Homo sapiens: one gene and its partners. The protein of the gene in region 3 interacts with the protein of the main gene of each other region in a biochemical or structural test. Each region holds a gene or a part of one and is shown on either strand. Other genes may lie near its edges. The genes, in order: NPPC, NPPB and NPR2.

Region 1 (7,729 bases), on a different chromosome or scaffold from region 3:
TTCATTAATGTGAAAAATCTAAGCTGTCTTTCTCTTTACGCCCAGTGATATATCCTGGGCATCGTCACCAGGAGCCTGCAGGAATGATGTTCTGCTCTCTCACTGGGAATGGGGGGCAGTGAGGGTGGGGTTTTTATTTTTCATTTAAAAAATCCCAAATAATAAATCCACACCGCCCTTCCCAAATAATAATAAAACAGCTGGTGTTGGGCGTAAGCCGGTGTTGAAGGTGTCGACGGTAAGTGTTCATCTATGCTAAGAGAGCTGGTAGGAGATTATTGAACCCCCCTGATCAAAGGGGTCGAGAATTCTTAACAATGTGGATTCCTCCTACACAGCATCTTTCACCACCCGTTTGGCCATCACTTGGTGACCACAGACATCCAGGCCCAAGAACAAAGCCCCTGTGGGGATGCGCATTCCAGGTACGAACCAATGGAGAGTCACTAACATTTGCTCAGGTTCTAAAGTTTGAACTTGATGCTTAAATCAAACTGAAAATTTGAGGCCTCAGACTCCGTCTCTTTGTTGTTTAGACAGGAGAGAAGAGAGCAAAGGCATTCCAAGGGTAGCTACTGAAGGCTGGTCCCCAAGTGTCAGAATCATTCTTCTCCCTGTGCAGGGGAGAGTCAAGATCACAGACAACTACAGCCTTTGCAGAACTGGGGAGAGGCCCACAGCCGAGTGAGGTCTGGCTGCAAAGAGAGGAAGGGCACTGGTTAAAACCTCGGGCAGGTGGGAGTGGCCATGGGCCAGGGTGTGCTGGTTTCTCTGGTCATTGACAAATATTTCCACGAGTCTGTTCGGGGTGCAGTGGGTCCTAGAGTGCCTTAGGCCAGCACTTCGCCCTTAAGCTGTTCAATATGGAGAGGTGAATGGGTTCACAAACTGTGAAAAAGTGTTCTGTACTGTAAAAAAGAGACAGTGTGCTGGACAGGCGCTCTTGTTTCCCTCCGGGAGAAGATCCGACACTGACAAGGGTTTCTGGGGAGGAGACAGCAGCTTGCCCGTAGCCTGGGATGGGACAGTCAAGGTGTGGGACAGGCAGTGGCAGCTGCTGAGCTGGAGGCAAGAAAGCGAGAAAGCCAGGTAAGCCTGATCCTAACGCACATGACTGTCAATGTCAGAGGCTGGGATGTTATTCAGTGGGCACGGGCAGGCGGCAGGAATAGAGAGGAGGGAAAGAGGAGAGGTGAGGCTCTCTGCAGCAGTAAATTACCACCACGCGGCACCCGGCAGGGGGTGGCGGTAGGGCAGAGGTTTCCAGCCCTAGTGCGGGGTGAGACCCCACACCAGAAACGGAGCCCAGAGCACCGGTTGGGTCGGGACAGGGTTGGTGAGGGACTCTGGGACGTGTTGAGTTCGAGGCTGGGGCAAATAATATTTACTTTAGTGTCTTTCCTATTCCCTGAAATAGTGCCACAAGCACTGAGATTCACCCCCGAAGCCACCAGGCTGCAGCTGCCTCAGGACCCTGGACAGACCAGTTTGCCCACTGCCTGGGTTTAGAGAAGGGACAGGAATCGGAGTGTCCCAGGCAGAAGGGCGCTCTGACAGTGCCAGCAGAGGGCTACTCTCACTACAGGGGGCATGGTGGCCAGCAGATGATCGATGTCCCCTGGACTTGTGGGTGTAACCTTCCTTCTCTGCTCCCACAAACCCATGATCTCCTCTCAATCCCCCCACCAGCTGGCCAATAGGGGCCAGTGCTGCTAGTTCAGCTACGGTTCAGGGGTGGGTGAGACACCACCAAGCCTGTTTCTGCTTCTCCAGAAGAAGCCAGGTGGGTTCAACCAGGCTGAGCCGTTTCTGACCTTGCCAAAGTTCCCCGATCACGTTATCCTTCGCTTTCTTTGTCTGTAAAGTGGGATAATAAAGGGGGCGGCTGGCAAACGCCTAGCACAACTTGAGCAAAGGCGGCTCGCGCGCCTCCGAAGGCCGGCTGGGCGGCGGGCGGTCCCGGGCCGGGCTGGGGCTGGGCGTCGGGTGGGCCGTACTCACCGCCGCCAGGGGGCGCCGCACTAACATCCCAGGCCGCTCATGGAGCCGATTCGGTCCAGCTTGAGGCCGAAGCAGCCCTTGGACAAGCCCTTCTTGTTGGCTCCTTTGTATTTGCGCGCGTTGGGGTGCTCTTGCAGAAGGCGAGCCCACGCTGCCCGCGACTTGGTGTCCACGCGCAGGTCCCGGAGCAGTCGCGACCGGTCGCCCTTGAGATTGGCGCCCCCGCCCCCGGGAGCCTTGTCGCCCTTCTTCTGACCGCCGCCCGCAGCCTGCGGCTCGGCCAGCTCCTCTGCCGGCGGGGTTCGCGGGACCTGTCCGAGGAAAGAGCGGGCAGGTGAAGGGACACGCGGCTGCAGCACGGGGGACTCTGATGCTCCAGCCCCACGCGCCCGCCGGCGCGGGGTGTCCCTCCCAAGCCCAGAGCCGCCCCCACCGATGCCGGCCAGCTTGGCCCCGCATCCACCTGCCACGCGGCCGCCTTCGCCGCTCCCTCCGGAAGCCCCCTGCCCTCCCTTTGCTGCTCGCCGGGCAGGCCACACTGGGGTAGGGGGCTGCGCATGGGCCGATGTTCTCCGGAGGCTGGAGAAGTGGACCCCCGAATCCGCGCTTCGAGGGCTCCCCGGCTCTCGCCCACGCGCATCTCGGAGGAGACAGCCGCCTGCCTTCCCTCTCTCCTGGGTCCTGCGCGCCGCATTCTCCAAGCCCCCAGCCTCCCACGCCTCTCCCAGGCTCGGCGTCCCCACGACAGCACCCACCTTCGGCGGCGCCCCGGGCTTGGCTTCGGAGGGCCGGAGGGAGAGCAGCGTGAGCAGCAGGGCGCAGGCCAGCAGCTGGGAGAGATGCATGGTGCCGCTGGGGTCGAGGGGCGCACACGGGCGGCAGCGAGGGCGCGCAGGTCGGCGGGCAGACCAGCAGGGGGATGCGGAGCAGGCTGGCTGGGCTGCAGGGCGAGCAGGGTCCCAGTGCTGCGCGGCGCCGGCTGGGTGCGCTCTGAGCCCGTGACTCTGCTCGCGCCTTTATAATCCAACCTGCCGCTGATGTCATCCTCCCGCCCACCGGGCCGCCCGGGCCAATGACACCACGCACGCGGCCGCGCCGAGGGCCGGGAGGGGGCCGCGGGGGCTCCCCTCCCTTATCCCACCCCGGAGGGATCCCGCGGCTCGGCGGGCTCGCTCCAGGCTGCACTTGGAGCTGCAGAGCTGAGCGCACAGGGGAACTCCATTTGCAGCGAGCGCGCGCCCTGGCCTGCCGAGCATCGGTGCGCCTGGTGCCCTGTGCACCCACTAGGTCCTCATCGCACTCACTCTACCTGGAAGGGATACGTAGCCCTCTTTGCAGGTGCAAAGACAGGCTCAGAGGAATGAAGTCACTTGCCCAAAGTCATACAGGCATAAAGTTGGCGCTGCCCGAAATCCACGCAGCCCTGCTTGTCGCCAAACTCTTCCCTGGGCACCTGACAGCCGCGGGATGGCATTGCAGCTCCGCCTTTCACCTGCCGGTCAGGGCGGGAGCGCAGACCACAGCGACGTCGTTAGGTTGGGGAGGCAGAGGATGGGGTTGGAGGACTGGGGTGGGAGGCGCAGGGAGAGCGGGGTTCGCCTGGGCCGCAGGGGGGAGCGCAAGTCTTCCACACTGGAGAGTGCAGGGGTGTCGCCAGCCTGAGTGTTTGAGCGCAAGGCGGGAACGAGGGGACTGCGAGCGCGGAACCAAGATATTCATGCTCATGCGTGTGCTCCGCGGCATCGTATGCTCGCCAGTTACTGCTCTAGGTTCACGTTCAGCCGGTTTCGGCCACACAGAACGTCCCGGGGTCTGACTCCGCTGGTGAACTCCCTCTGTGGGAACAATGCGCACCTGACCTTGCCTGCACCCACGCGAGGATCCGCTGCTGGGGGAAGCCCGCTCCAGTATCCTGTGCACTTTCACAGGCTGGGGAGAGAGCTTCCTAGCCAGCGGCCCAGTCCAGCCTCTGCCAGCCGTGACAGGTGGTCAACTTCCCGTTTTTGACTGTAGAGAGGTCCCCGTGGCTCTCGGGACATGGCCACATATCCCTACCACTCACGAACTTGCTCTCCTTGCACTGGGCTTCTCGGTCCCTTGGACACTAAGGAGTGTGGTGGGCATTTGGGCACTGCGGTGTGGGCCGCAGAGGCGGAGAGCCCAGATCCCCCGAATTGATTGAAGAGCAGGAATCTATGACTGGCTGCTGCTGAGCAGGACGCAGGCTGGAGAGAGAACAAATGTTGCCGCAGGAGTGCAGTGGCTGTCCCCAGGCGTGAAGGCGATTCTGGGGAGACAGTAGCCCAGACGAGATTTTCCAGGGAGAGGAAGCTGTGCCTGAGGCAGGAAGGCAACTGGAGTGAAGAGGGGCTTGGAGAACCAGGTTCCCTCCAAGCCTCCCTCTTCCCTCCGTGGTAGTGAGCCTGGTCCCAGAGCTGCTAAGGCGGCCGCATCATGGTCTGCTCTGTCGGCACCTTTCTCAGGCTACCCCTTCCCACTCTCATACCCTGACTCACAACATTGGAGCAACCACTACACAGGTCACTTTGCTTAGGAAACAGCTAACACCTGAGGTCTGAGTTTGGGGCAGCAAAGTTTCCTGATCTCCAGGAAGATCCAGACATCAACAGGGCACCTTCTGTGGATTCTGGTGAATTGAGTCACCACCTCCACGCAGCCCCCCAATTCCTCTCCGTGCTAACACCCATAGAGTGGCACCACTCTTTCATTTGAGGAGAAAGGAAGAGGAACTAGAAAGCAGTATAGGGAGGGGTATCCAGGTGGGCTGTGAAAGTTCCCTCTGCTTTTTGCCTGCTGTGCAAAGAAGGATGTTACCATCTGGAACTTCTCTGACACTTGCTTTCTTTATACCTGTTTAAAGAGTCAGGCAGAGCCACACAGACTGACTCTAGAGTCAAGCACTGGGCTGGTTTCCAGGGGCCAGCAGTACATCCTCTAAAGCCCCTTATTAAGGAAATCTTCCGCTGTTCATGGCTACTTCCTTCTGTCTGAACGTCCTTAGGTTGGTCCTTCCTGTCTTCTGTGTTCCTAGACACATTCGCGTCCAGGTGATTGACTATCTAGGTCTCCTCTCTGTTTGAACTTTGAGGCTAAATTAATAAAACTGACACCCCCAACCTACTGTGGCAGAGCCGATTCCCTGGACTCACCTTCCCATCTTTGGAAGGGAAATCTGGTGAGCTGCCACTCCTGACCACTGGGCGGTGGTCATCTGCAGAGGGAGGCTTCCCGGGGGGCAGGCTGTGGAGCAGCTTCTGCTTAGCTGGGGCCTGGGAGGCAGGGTGGGTAAGAGTCAGAGGCCTGGGCAGGAGGGGCCACCGGGAGGTGTGCCATCAGCACATAACTGCCTTGGAGATGAAGGTTTCCCCTCTCCCTTTGCTTTCCTTGCCTGGGGAGCTGCAGAGGACGCCCACTCTTCCTCCTGAGCCTAGATTTGGAACTCAGGTCCCTTTTTGTTGCTTTTCCCTTACGAAGTCTGCTTCTTCTGCCCCAGGCCCCAGGGGCATGGCCTGGGAAAGTTGAACTCACTGAGCAGCTGAATATGAGCTATTCAAGTCATTTTATTGACTGCTCAATTTTAAATTTCCTCCTAACGGCAAAAGAGGGAGAAAAGGCCCCAAGGCCGCGGTAATTCTGTAAGGAATCATGTCGTTCTCACTGATCTCGCTGATCTCCCGGTATCTACTGAGCATCCCTGAAGCCTGCAGGGTTCCATCCAGCCGGGAAGAACCCCCTAGCAGACAGACATGAGCTTTGTAGGCTGAAAAGGACAATGACAGGGAAGGGGACAGGTCAGGCTGAGGCCACCCAAGGAGGGCTCCTCCTCCAGCCTGGACTAGCAGGGTGGGCTTCCTGGAGAAGGAAAAGTCTGTGCTGAGCCTGGAAACACAGGAAGAGAAGGGAAGAGAAGAGGAAAACCTCGACAGAAAACCAGGCTAACAGTGGAATGTACTAGAGTCAGGCCTAGAGGGGTGCTGTTTGAGAAAAACCAAATGAGAGGCCTCACCAAAGGGCAACACAGAGGGCAGGGGAGGCCGATGAGACTGCAGAACCCCATGTGCCCAGACCTCGGGAGGGTGGAGTGCTTCAGGCAGGGGTGCCCAGAGGAGGCAGACTAGGGAGAGGCAATTCTAAGGTCGATGGTGTTCTGGAGGTGGGGGGTGTGATGGAGAGAGAGGAGCCTGCTGAGCTCTTGGGGGTGGGAAGGGCAAGTGAGCTTATTGGGGGTGCCTGAAGATGAGGCAAGGGGAAGGGGGTCAGCTAGGTGTGGGGGAAGTGGGAGGGAGCAGGAAGTGGGAGGCAGAGCCAGCCTGAAGCATGCAGAGCCTTCAGTGTCAGAGAGTTGCATGGGCGAGTCCAGGGTATCAGCTCTGCCACAGTAGGCTGGGGGTATGCAGGGCCTTCAGCGTCGGAGAGTTGCATGGGTGGGACCATTTTCTCCCTTCTGGCCCTCTGAAGGGCGGGACCCCGTTTTGTGGGCCCCTTTTCACTCTTTCCCTCCTCCCAGAAGGGCAAGGTGCGACTCTGACACCTACTGGAGAGGGGCCCTTCCTTGGGACAGGCGATGTCTGGCCAGGAATCAGGATGTGATAGAAAATGAGAGTGGGCCCTGGTCAGGATGCCTGGTGGGAGAAAGGCGTGTGGAAGGGCTGCTGGGAGGCTGGGGAAGGAGCAGCTAAGACAGGACTGTCCAGCCTAGGTCCCCAGGAGGGAGGAACAGGAGCCCCGCGAAGCAGCGCCCCCTCCTGGCCCCAGGGCTGCAGGGGAGGGCTCTCAGGCACACTGGAGGGGAGGATTGCAGAGCCGCCCATCTGTTTCTCTGCAATTGTTTATCCCGGGGCCCCCTTCCAGCTGCATAATTTCTCAGAGAAGACACTAAACAGGCAGTGAGCGAGTCTTGAGGTCAGGCAGGGAAATTGCTGCGGGACACTGGCCAAGTCCCGTCACTGCTTTGGGCCCTCAGTTTCACCACCTGTAATTAGAAAAACACTGTCCTTGTCTTCTAGACAGGGCAGAGTGAATCTGGGGCCTGATAAGAGGCTTCCAACCTCTCCCTGGCCAAACACAGCAGGAGACAGCTGAGGCAGAAGAGAGATCTGAATGTCACTGCATGTCCACACATACTTTTGGGTGAGAGGACCCCCACAGCCCCCGAAACTCCCCAGGACTGTTTAGTGGTGCAGCCCCTCAGAGCACACAGAGGCCGGGGCATGGCCAGGTCTCCTTGAGCTTGGTACCTTCCTCCAGGAGTCCTGCACCCATGGCGCTGGACTGGAGTACTGGAGGAGATGGAGGCCAAGGAAGCGTCATTCATCCTTCACGGGCCAGAGATTCCAGGAAAGCTTAACCTCGTTGTACCATGAGTCTTTGACCCCAGGACACCCCCATCTGATGAGCCAGCTGCCCTCCTTCCCTTTCCCAGGGGTCCTGCCAGCACCTGCTCCAGATGGCCTCCAACCCCACTGTCCTACGCAGTCCATGACGTCAGAGTTCATTCCTCCTTTCCCCTGCTTGCCAAAAAGAAAAGACAGGTCCTCCACAAATAGGCTCACTTCCCTGGGGGAATCAACAGCTCTCCATCTGGCTGTCAAAGGGCAGGTGAGTGGGGCAGTGAGAGGCTTCAGCCCTGAGAAAGTGAGCAGGATAGTGAGCAAGAGGGCCTCCCCAGCAGAAAAGAGCTCAGCACCCCAACCTCAGCTCAGAGCCT
Region 2 (6,185 bases), on a different chromosome or scaffold from region 3:
GGGAGGGGCACCCTGGAAAGCTGGGCTGATTGCCAGACCCCTCTCACTTTGTGGGTTGGAGTTTTGAAGGCTCCTTTGCAGGATGACCCCAGGAATTGGAGTTTCAAAGCTGATATTTGGGGCAGGATGGAGGGCTCACCCCGGTATGGGAATGTAGATGAGCCACACCCACACACACTGCCCCCAGTCGTTGACATTTTAGCTGAGACCTGAAAGCAATAATCCCCAGGGAGAGTGCTTTAATGGTGGAATTCCAGGCAGAGCAAGGACGAGTGGAGAAAACGGCTGGATACGTGCCCTCAGGTTGCACACGTATCCTGCCCTGCTTTGAAAAGCAGTTTCTCCCAAGTGCCTCAAGTGCTTGAGATATTCAATAACATTTCAGAGCATTAAAAACTCTGAAAGAAAAGAAAGCCTGCTACCTCTGAGGCCACATCCTCATCCCACCATGAAGATGCCTTGAGATCACAGGGCTTTGTGGTTTTAGTTGGGTTGGTTTCTTTGAAATGAGGGATTATTTTTAATGCGCCAAGACAAATCAGTTTCAAAAGATAAAGCTTATAATGTTGACTTTATTTCACCGTGGAAATTTTGTGCTCAAAGGTAAGAAACCATCTTATATAAAACAATCAAATAAATACATAAATACATTAAAAAAATGAGTCACTTCAAAGGCGGCCACAGGGTTGAGGAAAAAGCCCCTTGTGGAATCAGAAGCAGGTGTCTGCAGCCAGGACTTCCTCTTAATGCCGCCTCAGCACTGTCAGGGAAAGAGAGAGGGTGATGATGGTTAGGGTGGGAGATGGAGGCAGGGGCTGAGCTTACCTCATCGTGTGCCACCCACCACCCTGTTAGTCATCAGACGTTTGAGGCTTAATGCAACTCTCTGAGCCTCAGTTTCCTCATCTGTAAATTGGGGATTATCATTGCTCTGGTGATCCTGCTCTCTGCCTTTGAGACTATAGACAGTTTAGAGGAAACCAGGAGGAAATGTTTGGTTCTCTTTCTGCACCACTGGGGGGCTGCCAAATGATAAACAGACCCCCAAAGGAGATTCTGCCCCTTTGATAAGAAGTAGGAGGTGGGGAGAAGGTATTGTGGGCATGGTAATGAAATAAGCCCACATTTACTAATTCCACAAAGGCACCCCTTGGCCCTGAAGGCTGTTAACAAGAGGAAGCGATGTCCAGGTGACCTTTTCTCAAAGAGTGTGGTTCCCAGAGACAACAAACCCCAAAGTGACTCTAACAGTGTCACACACTGGAATGGGGGAAGGCGGCCGGGGTGGCAGGGGGTGCTTACCTTTGCAGCCCAGGCCACTGGAGGAGCTGATCCGGTCCATCTTCCTCCCAAAGCAGCCAGACCCTTGCACCATCTTGGGGCTTCGTGGTGCCCGCAGGGTGTAGAGGACCATTTTGCGGTGCCCACGGATGCCCTCGGTGGCTACCTCCCGGGACTTCCAGACACCTGTGGGACGGGGGCTCTCCTGGAGGGGCTCCAGGGATGTCTGCTCCACCTGCAGCTCCGACAGTTTGCCCTGCAAATGGTTGCGCTGCTCCTGCAATGAATGGGGGCGTCCAAGCCTCAGGGACCCACCCCTGGGCTCACCAGCCCTTCATGGCACCCAAGTGAACCGACTGCCTTGGGTACAGGGTCAGGGCACCCAGTCTCTCCATTTTCTGATTCCTTTATCACTAATTCCAAAGGAAAGATGAGGGCCTCTTGGGACAGCAGGTGAGGACCCTTTCATTGCTGCTGTCCAATCCCCCTGAGCTGCCCTCCGCTCTCACCTGTAACCCGGACGTTTCCAAGTCCGAGGCTGAACCGGGGCTGCCCAGCGGGTGGGAACGACCTCCCAGGAAAGCCAGATGCAAGAAGAGCAGGAGCAGGAGCGCCCGGGAAGGTGCTGTCTGGGGATCCATGTCTCTGGAGGGACTGCGGAGGCTGCTGCTGCTGCTTCTGCTGCTGCTGCTGCTGCTGCGATGCGTCCGGGTTTGCTTCCCACCTGCCCTCAGCCTGCGGGGTGCTCCTCCTGGCTCCTCGGGACACCGTGGCCTTTTATCCTGGAGCTGAGTGTCGGGCCTGCCCTGCCATGCAGGGTTATCTCTGATTTATCAGCCACATTCCGGGCCTCTGAGATCAGGGCCCGGGAATGAGCCCCTCCGCGCCTGCGACGTGGGAGGTGGAGACCGGGCAGAGCCGACCTTGTATAGAAATGGGCCGGGTCGGGCCGGGGGGCAGGAACGCGCTGGAGACACAGACAAGTCCCCGTCTCCCGCTTCTTCCTTTCCTGCAAATGTCCAGGTGTCCTAGGTTGGCGCTTTCTTCCTGCCTCCCCACCCCACCGTTGCTGGAAAAGGCAGGGAGGACCCCGGCTTTCCGAGGACCGACGTGAGCGCGGGGAGCACGGGGTGACTCACAGCGAAAACAGCCCCGGCCAAGACCCCGCCACCCGCGGCGCCTCTCCCCTCCCCGCGCGAGTTCCCTGGCCCGCACGTAGCGCAGCACCTGCTCGCCGCTGTGCACCCTGCCTGCCTGCGGGTCCTCGGGGGCGCCCTGGCCGCTGTCCGTGGTGCTGATCACCCCGAGGGAACTTGGAGCAAACTCTCAAGAGCTGCTCTCTTCAACGGGATTTTCAGGCCAGAAAGACCTGCGTGGAGCAAGGACAAGAGACCTCCGAGACCTTTCCCTATGCTCTCACAATCCGCCATCTTATAGTCCTTACAGCAACGGGATGCTGATTCCCCAGTGGCAATTCATTAAAAGCCTGGGTATGACCAGGAACTTCTGGAATGCTGACCCTTCTTTCACTCCTTAAAGGGAAGAGCAGATTTCGCTGGAATTTTGAGAGATAGGGTCCAGTGATGACGAAGTCACCCAAGAATGCCTTATATGTGTGTCCTCCACGTGTCAACACCTCCTCTCCCCCACCAAGCCAACACAGGATGGAAAACAAAAGGATAGGCTGGGCATGGTGGTTCACGCCTGTAATCCCAGCACTTTGAGAGGCCGAGGCGGTCGGATCACGAGGTCAGGAGATCGAGACCACGGTGAAACCCCGTCTCTACTAAAATTACCAAAAATTAGCTGGGCATGGTGGCAGGCGCCTGTAGTCCCAGCTACTCGGGAGGCTGAGGAAGGAGAATCACTTGAACCCAGGAGGTGGAGGTTGCAGTGAGCTGAGATCACGCCACTGCACTCCAGCCTGGTTGACAGAGAGCGAAAAAAGAAAGAAAGAAAGAAGGAAAGAAAGAAAGAAAGAAAGAAAGAAAACAAAAGGATGGCTGGAATGATGGTTATCTATTTGCTGGGATACCAGAGATATGGGGATTTCCCCTCTCCCAGTGCCTCCTTCATCTGACCACCCATGATCTAATTATCATTAGCAGGTGGCCTGGTGATTAGAAGTGAGACTTTGGAGAGAAATGCCCCTGAGAAGAGTCATAGCAGCTTAAATACCCCCCTAAAGCATATATGACTGATGTCACTCCCCTTCCAGAGAATTGGTGTCAACAAGCAGCAGGCTGGAGGAGTGGAGCTGTCTATGAGGGGAGAAGAGTTACAGCAGAGAAGGGCAGCAATAAGAAACTGGGACCTCTAAGCAGATCTTGCCTAAAAAATAGCATCTGCCCCTGAGGTGAGAAAAGCACGGTTATTATTCCTCACTTCAGAGGAGGAAATGGTGTTCATGAATTAATCTACTTTCCAAAAGTCACACAATTGACACATGATAAATCCTGGATTCTAACCAGTCTGATTAGTCTAGCCAGCAGTCTGATTCCAGACCTGAAGCTCATAATCACTGCCAGGGTGATCACAAGGTGTTTCTACAAAAAGCAAGCTTAGGTGAATCCCGTGTCATCTATGAAGGCTCTGGGAGCTGTGCTGTGGGGGATGTGCAATTCTAGTGGTGACTGTGTGTGCAGGAGAAAGAATGGGAAGTGGCTCAGATGAGCATTTTGCAGATGAAATATAAATGGAGGTGGGTGGGTAAGGGCTGTGTAAAGACACCAGTGCTGGAAATGTTCTGGGGGGCTGGGGTAGTTTTGTGTGTGTGTGTGTGTGTGTGTGTGTGTGTGTGCGTGCACATGAGCATGCCACAGTAAGAGTATCAAAAGGCTAAGAGGAAGCTAAAGAGGTAAGAAAATTCAGCCAAGTGCAGAGGGGAGTCAGTGGGCGAGAGGCTGCTGAGGGTGCAGAAAGCCCCTCATGCTGAGTACCATGAGATAAAGGGTTCAGAGCAAGGCAGGATTCATCAACCAGCACCATCAAAAACTGACTCTGCATCTCGCCAGAGCCTCACTTTGCTCTTCGGCAAAATGGACAGTCCTTGCAAGGACTAAAAGGAAAAAAATAATATCTGCAAAAGCCCGTGGCACTGTATAAAGGGCCAAATAATTAGTAGTACATGAGAGTTGGTCTTTACACTGAAGGAGATTGTGATCTCACTGGGGAGACAAAGTGACCCCAAGTGAGACAATTAAGTGTCTAAGTGTCATACACTCTGACAGAGTTTCTATCTGTCCCCAGTGGAGGGGACTGTGGAAGAAGACTTGAGGAAGACACAGAACTAGACACATCCTCCAAGGCCTGCTGTCCAGGGAGGAGGATATGTTGTCAACTAACTCTCACACCAGATCAGCCCCATCAACATTTATCGAGGGCCTGTCATATGCTATGTGCTTTCCAAGTCTATTTAATGAAGCTAATCATAACACCTCTGTTGGAGCATTAATGTACAAGGATTAAATTTGATGATGTCTGTGGTAAGCTGAATAATAGTCCCCAAAAGATGTCCATATTCTAATCCCCAGAATCTGCGAATATACTACTTTACATGGTAAAAAGGACTTTGCAGGTGTGGTTAAGTTAAGGACCTCAAGGTGGAGAGATTCTCCTGGATTATTCAGGAAGGCTCAATGTCATCACAAGGGTCCTTATAAGAGGGAAGCCAGAGGATCAAGGTCAGAGGGACAAAATGTAAGGATGGGAACAGGTCAGAGAGGAGAGAAGAGACTACACTGCTGGCTTTGAAGATAGAGGAAGGGGCCATGAGCCAAGGAATGTAATCAGCCTCTAGAAGTTGGAAAGGGCAAAGAAATGGATTTTTCCCTAGAGCTTCCAGAAGGAATATGGGCCTGCCAATACCTTAGTTTTAGCCCAGTGAAACAGATTTCAGACTTCTGATGTCTGGAACTGTAAGAAAATAAAATCATGTTCTTTTAAGCCAACAAGCTTGTGAGACTTTGTTTCAGCAGCAATGGGAAATTAATAGAGTATATGTCAAATGCCAAGCATAGTGTCTCTCCCATAGTAAGCCCTCAGCAAATGTTGTTATGGTAGAAGTATTGGTTCCCCACCACCATCCAACTCTAAGTGCTTAATCTGGCCACACAGAAAGAAATAAGACCCTTAAGTCATTCAACAAACTTTCACCGAGACCCTGGGGTCACAGTAGCCCAGACCCAAGACTGAAATCACAGTCTGGGCTCAATTTCACATCAACTTCTTGCTACCTTTGTGTGTTGGGCAAGTTGCTTCCTCTCTCTCCTTGTTTTCTCATGGCTACCTCATAGGGTTGTTGTGAGCATAAAATGAGACTGTGCAGGTTAAAATCTAATATTTCTGCTGGAAGGTGGGGATACATAACGGACAAGAAAGTCCCTGCCATTGAGAAGCTTACAGTGCAGGGGGAAAGGTGGGCACAATCACAGGCTCCCCAGGCTGCCACAGTGAGTGACAGATACAGTGGCAGTGAGTCCTGGATGCTCTGTGAGCACAGCAGGAGTGCGCAGTCGAGAAGGGAGTTTGTTGGAGAAGGTGGGGCTGGGCTAAGGCTTTGAAGGATAAGAATGAGTTAGCCACAAGAAGGAAGATGGAAGATGGGGAGGGCACTCTGGGCAGAGCAGATGCACAAGCAGAGGCTAGAAGGGCTGGTTAATGGATCAGCTACCACCCCTATGCTCTCTGCAGAAGGAAGAAGCTGTGCAGAATACAAGGTTTGACTAGTCAGAGAGTAGGACTCCAGCTGCAAGATTTTTCTGTAGCTTCCCTCTGGCCTCAATCTCCAGTCTAGTCCTGGGCAGCCAAAGTGGATGGTATGAGAGCACTGGGCACCTGGGGGAAGCAAAGGAGGAAACAGAGGAGCACTGACCCAGGAGGCAGGAGGCAGGCTCGTCTCTGCC
Region 3 (7,107 bases):
TTACACAGGAAGTGAGACCGTATTGTGACTTTAATGATAGATGTCATATTCATAGTCAGAGTGGGAGAGGAGATCCAAGCATCCTGAGCAAAGAGAAAAAGATAGGAATGGGCGTGTTTGAGAGACCAAGAAGATACTGACCCGACAAGAATGAGGGGTTCACTTAAAGGAGATACAGGAAATAAAGTTGCAAAGGTAGAATCAGATTAAGGAGAGCTCTAAGTCTTAAGGCACTAGGACTTGAATTTGGGGTCCTTGACTTTTTGTGTGTGTGTGTGTGTGTGTGGAGATAATTATACAGTAGTGACAGAATTCAGGATTAGAAGAGGGGGAGACCTGGGGCAGTGAGACCAACTGTAACAGATTAGAAGGGGGTGAGGTGATATAGCTTGAACTAGTGTGATGATAGCAGGAATGGAAAGAAACGCATTTCAGATTTCAGAAAATTTGTGGGGAATGTTGGCATGACTCTGTTCATTTCACTCCTGCTCAAAACTTTCAGTGACTTGTGTTCTAGAGAATAAAATCCTGACTCCTTATTGTGACATTTAAGACCTTCTGCAGTCTGTTCTCAAACCACTTTTTCAGTCTTACCTCCTGGTACCCTCATGCTGAGAACTGCAGCCTACCAGGCCTCTGAGTTCCCCCAACCCCAGGGCCTTCCTGCCCCTGTGCCTTTATGTTCTTTTTCCTTTTGTCTGGAATGCTCTTCCTTCCCTCATCCCAAATATCTGCCTCTCAAAATCATACCCATGAATCTTCCCGATTCCCCCGCCACTTTTTTACTAACCGTGCATATAAGTGTTTCCCGTGTATTTATCCATATCCCTCCTTTTTTCCAAGAAGGATTGGAGGTGGCTTATGGGATAACCTTAAAGTCCTTTAAACTCTGGGATTATTTGGTTCGAAGTAGCTGTGTATAAGGGCTGGACCTGGGTGGCCATTCTTCTCCAATAAGGTTTTATGTGGCTGTGATTATATATTTGGTTGCGACTGACGAGTGTGTGTCTGACTGAGAATGACATAGCTGTTTGCATGCCTGAGAATGAGTCTGTGACTGTCACACTTGAATATGGGCAGTGGCAGGGCAGGTTTTGTTTATGCCATAATGTTTTCCTAAAACAATCTTCTCACCTTTGTCTGGGTAATGCTTCCATATTCTTTAAGACTCATACCAGTTATTTTCCTTTCTAGGAAATGATCCCAGAATCCCTAAGTGGGACTGAATTTCCTACTCTTTTGCTTAACTCCATCTACCATAGAACTAACCATATTATTCAGTCTGTGTTTGATTTATTTGAAGGCTGACTCATTTCATTAGTATTTACTGAGCACCTATCATGTCCAGTCACTGTGCTAGGTACTGGTATACAAGGGAGAGCATAACAGACTTTGTTCCTGCCTTTTTGGAGTTTACATTTGGTAGGATGGGCAGGCAATAAATAAGTAAGCAAATAAATACAAATGTAGGAACATATTGTGATGTGTTACTAAAACATAAAGAGGAAAGGAATAGAGTGTTATGAAAAGAGAAGAACAAGGGGATTGTACTTCAGCTGGTGTGGACTGCAGAAGATCTGTGACCCTCTCAGATGGGAGCACTCCATAACCTTCCTGGTTATATCCTTTTTCTTTTTGAGACAGCTCTGTTGCCCAAGTTGGAGAGCAGTGGTGTGATCACAGCTGCTCACTGCAGTCTTGACCTCCCAGGCTGAAGCAATCCTCCCACTTCAGCCTCCCGAGTTGCTGGGACTACAGGCATATGACACCATGCCCAGATAATTTTTTATTTTTTATAGAGATGGGGTCTTATCATGTTGCCCAGGCTGGTCTCGAACTCCTGGGCTCAAATGATCTTCTTGCCTTGGCCTCTCAAAGTGCTGGGATTACAGGCATGAGCCACTGCGCCTTGCTGGCTGTATTCTATTTGTGGAAGAAAAGCCTCACTTTCTTCTGTGAGCATTATTGCCCAGCCAAGAGTCCCCAGCATTAAGGGTAGCTAGAGGAGGGATCTAGTCATCCAATAATCAGTTATATCAATTAACTCTCAGTTCTCCCCCTCACTGTGGGCATTATTCAGACAGAGAAATAAAGAGGGAATCTTTGCTGCAACACAAGAGAAGGGAACTAGGCACCAGGAATATGCTGATGGGAAGGTCAAGGCTTTGGGTAGGTGGGGCTGAGGGGTGATAAGGTGCCCCGCCCCCCACCTTCCAATGGGGAAGCAGGGGAGAGTCTGAGGGAAGTTGGGCAGTTAGCTACAGCCAAGCAAGGATGAAAGAGCACAGAGCCTTTCTCCCAGAGACACTGGCCCTCTGAGGTCCCAGACCAGGCCAGCCTGGAAAAGGTGGCAATAGAGGAAAGGAGGCCTTGACACAGATGCCCACAGCTTTTCCAGGAGGGTATCATGCTCAAGGAAAGGCCTTAGCTCATGCCGTATCGATACTGGCTACTAGGGAGAGAGCTCTGAAATCAAGTATGTTGATATGATTTTTCTCTCCCATTTAGCCACTAGCTGCTCCAGGGCAGGGATCATGCTCATCTTCATATTCCATATGTCTAGCATGTAGTAGGTGTTTAACACATATTTGCTGAATTGAATTAGGGGTGTGTTGGGGAGAGGGGGATAGGATGAGGAATTCACCTAGACAGGAGTAGAGCTGGCAAGTAATGTAAACTAGGTGATCAACCAGGATAGGGAAGAAAAGATTGAGTGGAACTAAATAAGCAATGACCAGGCTCTGAGGATCCAGAAGCCCAGGCTGGTCAATGGAGGACTACAGGGTTAGAAACCCAGGCAGAGGTCACAACCTACATGACCAGCATGAGATTGGGTTACACACAGGGAGCACCAGCGGCAAGAATGGAAGAAAGCACTAAACCAAGGGCTTGGAGATCACTTGTCTCATTAGGCCACTGTTGACCACTCTCCAGTTGGCCAGGGCAAGTCTCAGTGGGCGGGTCCACAGATAGAGGCAGGTGCCTCCTGAGGGTGCACATTTCCTAGGTGTGCTCCTGGCACCCACCCACCACTGCACCCATTTGTGGCGGACTTTGCTTGTTTTTTCCACCTGGGGTCCACTGTGAAATGGGACACAATTATCCTCCTTCACTTTCTCTCAAACCCCTGAGCAAGCACAGAAACTGTTTGAGGTTGGGTTTTTTTTTTTGGTTTGGTTTTTCATTTTTGTTTTTTGGTACTACAACTACAACTAGTAACCACAGCAAAAACAGTTCTAGCATAGCAGTTTAGGGGGACCATGGGGTCAAAACTATTTAAAAATAATACAAAGATCTTATCTGCTTTGTCACGCTTGTTCTTTTGTGATTGTGTAGGGAAGTTTTCCAGAGGTTACATGGCATGATGATGTCATCACTTGGACAGCTATGGAAGGTGTGCTTGTGTGTTCTTGCGTTTTCAAAATTTATCAGTTTTAATTTCTAAGATGGTCAATATTGATAGATATAGTCCACATAAACAAACTTTATTTGGGGTCCTTAATAATTTTTAAGAGTATAAAGCGATTGTGAGACCAAAAGTTTGATAACTGCTAGCCTAACAAACTAGCCAAACTTAGTGTTGAGAATTAGTGTTTAAAATGTGTTAAAAACCTATCATCAGCCTTTATTGAAATATAAATTGTGTTGAACCTGATCTTTTCTCGCCCTTTTCCTGACTTTTTACATTGCTTGTCAACAATATTCTACCTCTTTATTTTATTCTTGGAACAGGTGCTACTGAATGAACTATTTCAACCCTTTCCTCAATTCCCTTCTCTTTTTAAAAAAATTTTACCTGAGACTGGGAGAATGTTAGAAGTGTGTAATCAGGCAGCTAAATGCTCTAGTAAGAATAATGATATCTTGAGGCAAGCTGCAGTCTAATATAATATAATGAATGCATATTAGAAATCGACTTTATTATTTCCTATCTCTAATGAATTGATACATAATAGGCCATATGTGATGTGTCTAGTGCAGCGTATCTCTATGGTCCACATGTACTTTCTATGACAAGAATAAACAAAACTGGGAGAAATGACCGGATTTTAAATTATCATTTCACAAAGTCATGTTTCATAAAATATATTGAACTGAAGTCTTTCCTTGAAGTTGTGATGCCAGTTTCCTGTTGGAGCAGAAGTTGGTCTCAGTGACTATGTGGCCTGAGGCAGGGCCTGAGACTGGGAGGTCCAGCAGCTCAGGAAGGGGAAATGTGTGAGACTAATGGGAGCCAAGCAGGCACTTTGGTGAGAGACAGAGATGCTGACTCATGCGCCAGTGAGATGTGTGCATGTCTGAGATCACATGTGTCATTTGCTTACCTGTGAAATGTGTGTGGGCATGTGACTGTGTGTTTGTCCCTGTGACACATCTATTACTCAGTAAGCAGGACAGTGCTGTTTGTGGTAGGTGTTCCACACATTAAATGGATGAGCACACAGCTTTTCACAGGTGGAATCACTGTCTCAAAGTATTTCCCTCAGTTGTCATAGGGCCTGAAATCTCTCTAATTCACTGGGCGGAGACACTGTGTTCAAGTGGCCGAAATGACAATGTTAGTATTTTACTGATGACATTAACAGTGATTAACATCTCAGAGAGGAGCTGTTAGTGGGTGTTGTCCTTGATCATAAGCAGATACCCAGAAAGCATGGGACAGAGGAGCCGTGTGAGCTGTGGTGGCCTGGCAGGAACCTGGATGCTGGAAGGGAGCTCTGGAAGATGTTGGGCTGGGCTTTGGGGATGGGGTTGACTATTATTTGCCAGTTTCCACCTTCCCAGAACCAGTCCTATCTACCTTTCAGGAGGAGTGCCACTCCCTCTTCCCAGATGTATGCAACACAACACACACACACACACACACACACACACGCACACACACACGCAGAGAGAGAGAGGTTAGTAGCCCTTTCAAAGCCTTCAGACTCACCTGTGTATATTTTATATCATGTATATTTTACCAAGTTTCCCTGTCCTGCATCTTCTCTTCCCATAATGCCTATCTTGAATCCTGTTCACTCTTCCCCATATGCTGCTGGTACAGACTGTATTGGTGATCACGTACCGAGAACCCCCAAATCCTGAGTATCAGGAATTCCAGAATCGTCTGCTGATAAGAGCCCGGGAAGACTTTGGTGTGGAGCTGGGCCCTTCCCTGGTAAGTAGATCTCTCCCTTCCTGAGAGTCAGGTCAAGCTTTGGGGAAGGGCTTCTCTCCCAAACTCAGCATCAAGTCTTGGCTGTGGAGCAAGCCCAACTTTGGGGGGTCTCCGCTTCTGTCCAGGATTTTTCCTTCTGCCCTATGGAGTAGTTAGGAAGGGATGGCACTTTAGGAATAAGAGGGAAGAAAGCAAACCAGAAGAGAGAATAGGTAGAAGGGAGACCCCAGAGAGAGGGGAAGGGGCCTTGCAGGACATTTGGAGAGTACTGCTGAAGTTGCCACCCCCAGATGAACCTCATCGCTGGCTGCTTCTATGATGGGATCCTGCTATATGCTGAAGTCCTGAATGAGACAATACAGGAAGGAGGCACCCGGGAGGATGGACTTCGAATTGTGGAAAAGATGCAGGGACGAAGATATCACGGTAATGAAGAGGGGTCAATGGGGGTCTGAGGGCTGATGTCAGGAATAGAGTGGGCTGAAGAAGAAACAGATGTCAGGATCACCACAGCTTTAGTGGGGGTTAGTGAATATGGCAGAGTTGCCCACACCTCAAGATCGGGGAAGGGTAGACTCTGAGGGAGCCGTAGGCATGAGTGAGTGGGAGAGGAGCCCAGGGTAGACCTCAAAGAAAGGACACTCTTTTCTGTCTTAGGTGTAACTGGGCTGGTTGTCATGGACAAGAACAATGACCGAGAGACTGACTTTGTCCTCTGGGCCATGGGAGACCTGGATTCTGGGGACTTTCAGGTGATGGAGGAGGAGGCAGGGAAGAGAGTGTGGCCCTGCAAAATCCAGCTTTCAAGGGTTCAGTCGGGGCAGAACCAAAACTACTAGATGAGGGATTTGTTTTCTCTGCTGGCACTGCATCCTGGCTGGGTGGTAGGCTGGGGAGAAAAGCAGCGAAACAGCTGGGGTCTGGGGAGGAGGCTGGTGGGAGCAGGCCTGTGGGCCCAGCTTTTTGCTTCCTTACAGCCTGCAGCCCACTACTCGGGAGCTGAGAAGCAGATTTGGTGGACGGGACGGCCTATTCCCTGGGTGAAGGGGGCTCCTCCCTCGGACAATCCCCCCTGTGCCTTTGACTTGGACGACCCATCCTGTGATAAAAGTGGGTGTGTGCAGGGACTGGGAGCAGCTTTCCTCCCTTTGCTTTCCATTCATGGCCTCCACCCTCACTGACCCTCCACTCTTAACTGTGCTTCTGCCTTTACGTCTGCATCCCTCCCTCCTCATTTCTTCCTACTCCCAAGGAGTCTGTCTATGCACCTATGCACCCCGTTCTCCATTCTGCCAAGTCCGCACACAGTCTTCCTCAGGGTCTCTATTTCCCCTTCAGCTCCACTTTCAACCCTGGCAATTGTGGCTCTGGGCACAGGAATCACCTTCATCATGTTTGGTGTTTCCAGCTTCCTAATTTTCCGGTGAGTTCTGGGTTTCTTGCTGACCTACTCCCTGCCCCCATTGCCACACAACCTCTGGCTGAAGCCAGGTGGTCCCTATAATGTGGGATAGGGTAGTAGGTTTCTTAATTTGCTGGTTGTCTCTTAGATCCAACAGCGTCTTCCTCTCTAGCCTTTCTCTTTAGTTGTCGCTTAGCCTAGGTGTTTGTTCCACTTTTGGTCCTAGACTGGATATACTAACTAGTGTTTTTCAGTGGGGTTAAGATCAAAGGTGAATTTTCCATTGGTCTTCTTTTAGGAAAGAACTTTCACCCCCAGTCTCTGTGTTTGTTAGTGAGCATAGGGCATGTGCCAGATATGCCGAGAATGCAGCCTTATCTTCCAGCCCTGTCTCTCAGGTGTAACAGTTGCAGCTTCAGGAGCTGCAGGGAAGCCCCTGCAACCCTGCTGTTGGCTTGGGGGTGGCAGGATTCGGCTTGCCAGTCAACTGAGGTGTGCAGTCCTTACAGAAAGCTGATGCTGGAGAAGGAGCTGGCTAGCATGT

Evidence for each region.
Region 1: the proteins of NPR2 (region 3) and NPPC form a complex in vitro, tested with the Homo sapiens proteins (3 studies listed by BioGRID).
Region 2: the proteins of NPR2 (region 3) and NPPB form a complex in vitro, tested with the Homo sapiens proteins (3 studies listed by BioGRID).

What each region holds. Positions count from the first base shown.
Region 1 is NC_000002.12:231,923,404-231,931,132, forward strand, and holds the start of NPPC (C-type natriuretic peptide preproprotein), read right to left. Parts: upstream 2,994-7,729; 5' UTR 2,847-2,993; coding exon 2,757-2,846; intron 2,313-2,756; coding exon 2,022-2,312; 3' UTR 2,002-2,021; intron 1,063-2,001; exon of another isoform or gene 1-1,062.
Region 2 is NC_000001.11:11,856,912-11,863,096, forward strand, and holds NPPB (natriuretic peptides B preproprotein), read right to left. Parts: upstream 2,035-6,185; 5' UTR 1,923-2,034; coding exon 1,791-1,922; intron 1,559-1,790; coding exon 1,303-1,558; intron 761-1,302; coding exon 744-760; 3' UTR 553-743; downstream 1-552.
Region 3 is NC_000009.12:35,794,571-35,801,677, forward strand, and holds part of NPR2 (atrial natriuretic peptide receptor 2 isoform 1 precursor), read left to right. Parts: intron 1-5,047; coding exon 5,048-5,161; intron 5,162-5,451; coding exon 5,452-5,587; intron 5,588-5,818; coding exon 5,819-5,913; intron 5,914-6,138; coding exon 6,139-6,271; exon of another isoform or gene 6,272-6,275; intron 6,276-6,499; coding exon 6,500-6,584; intron 6,585-7,063; coding exon of another isoform or gene 7,064-7,072; coding exon 7,073-7,107. UniProt on the Homo sapiens protein: Receptor for the C-type natriuretic peptide NPPC/CNP hormone. Has guanylate cyclase activity upon binding of its ligand. May play a role in the regulation of skeletal growth.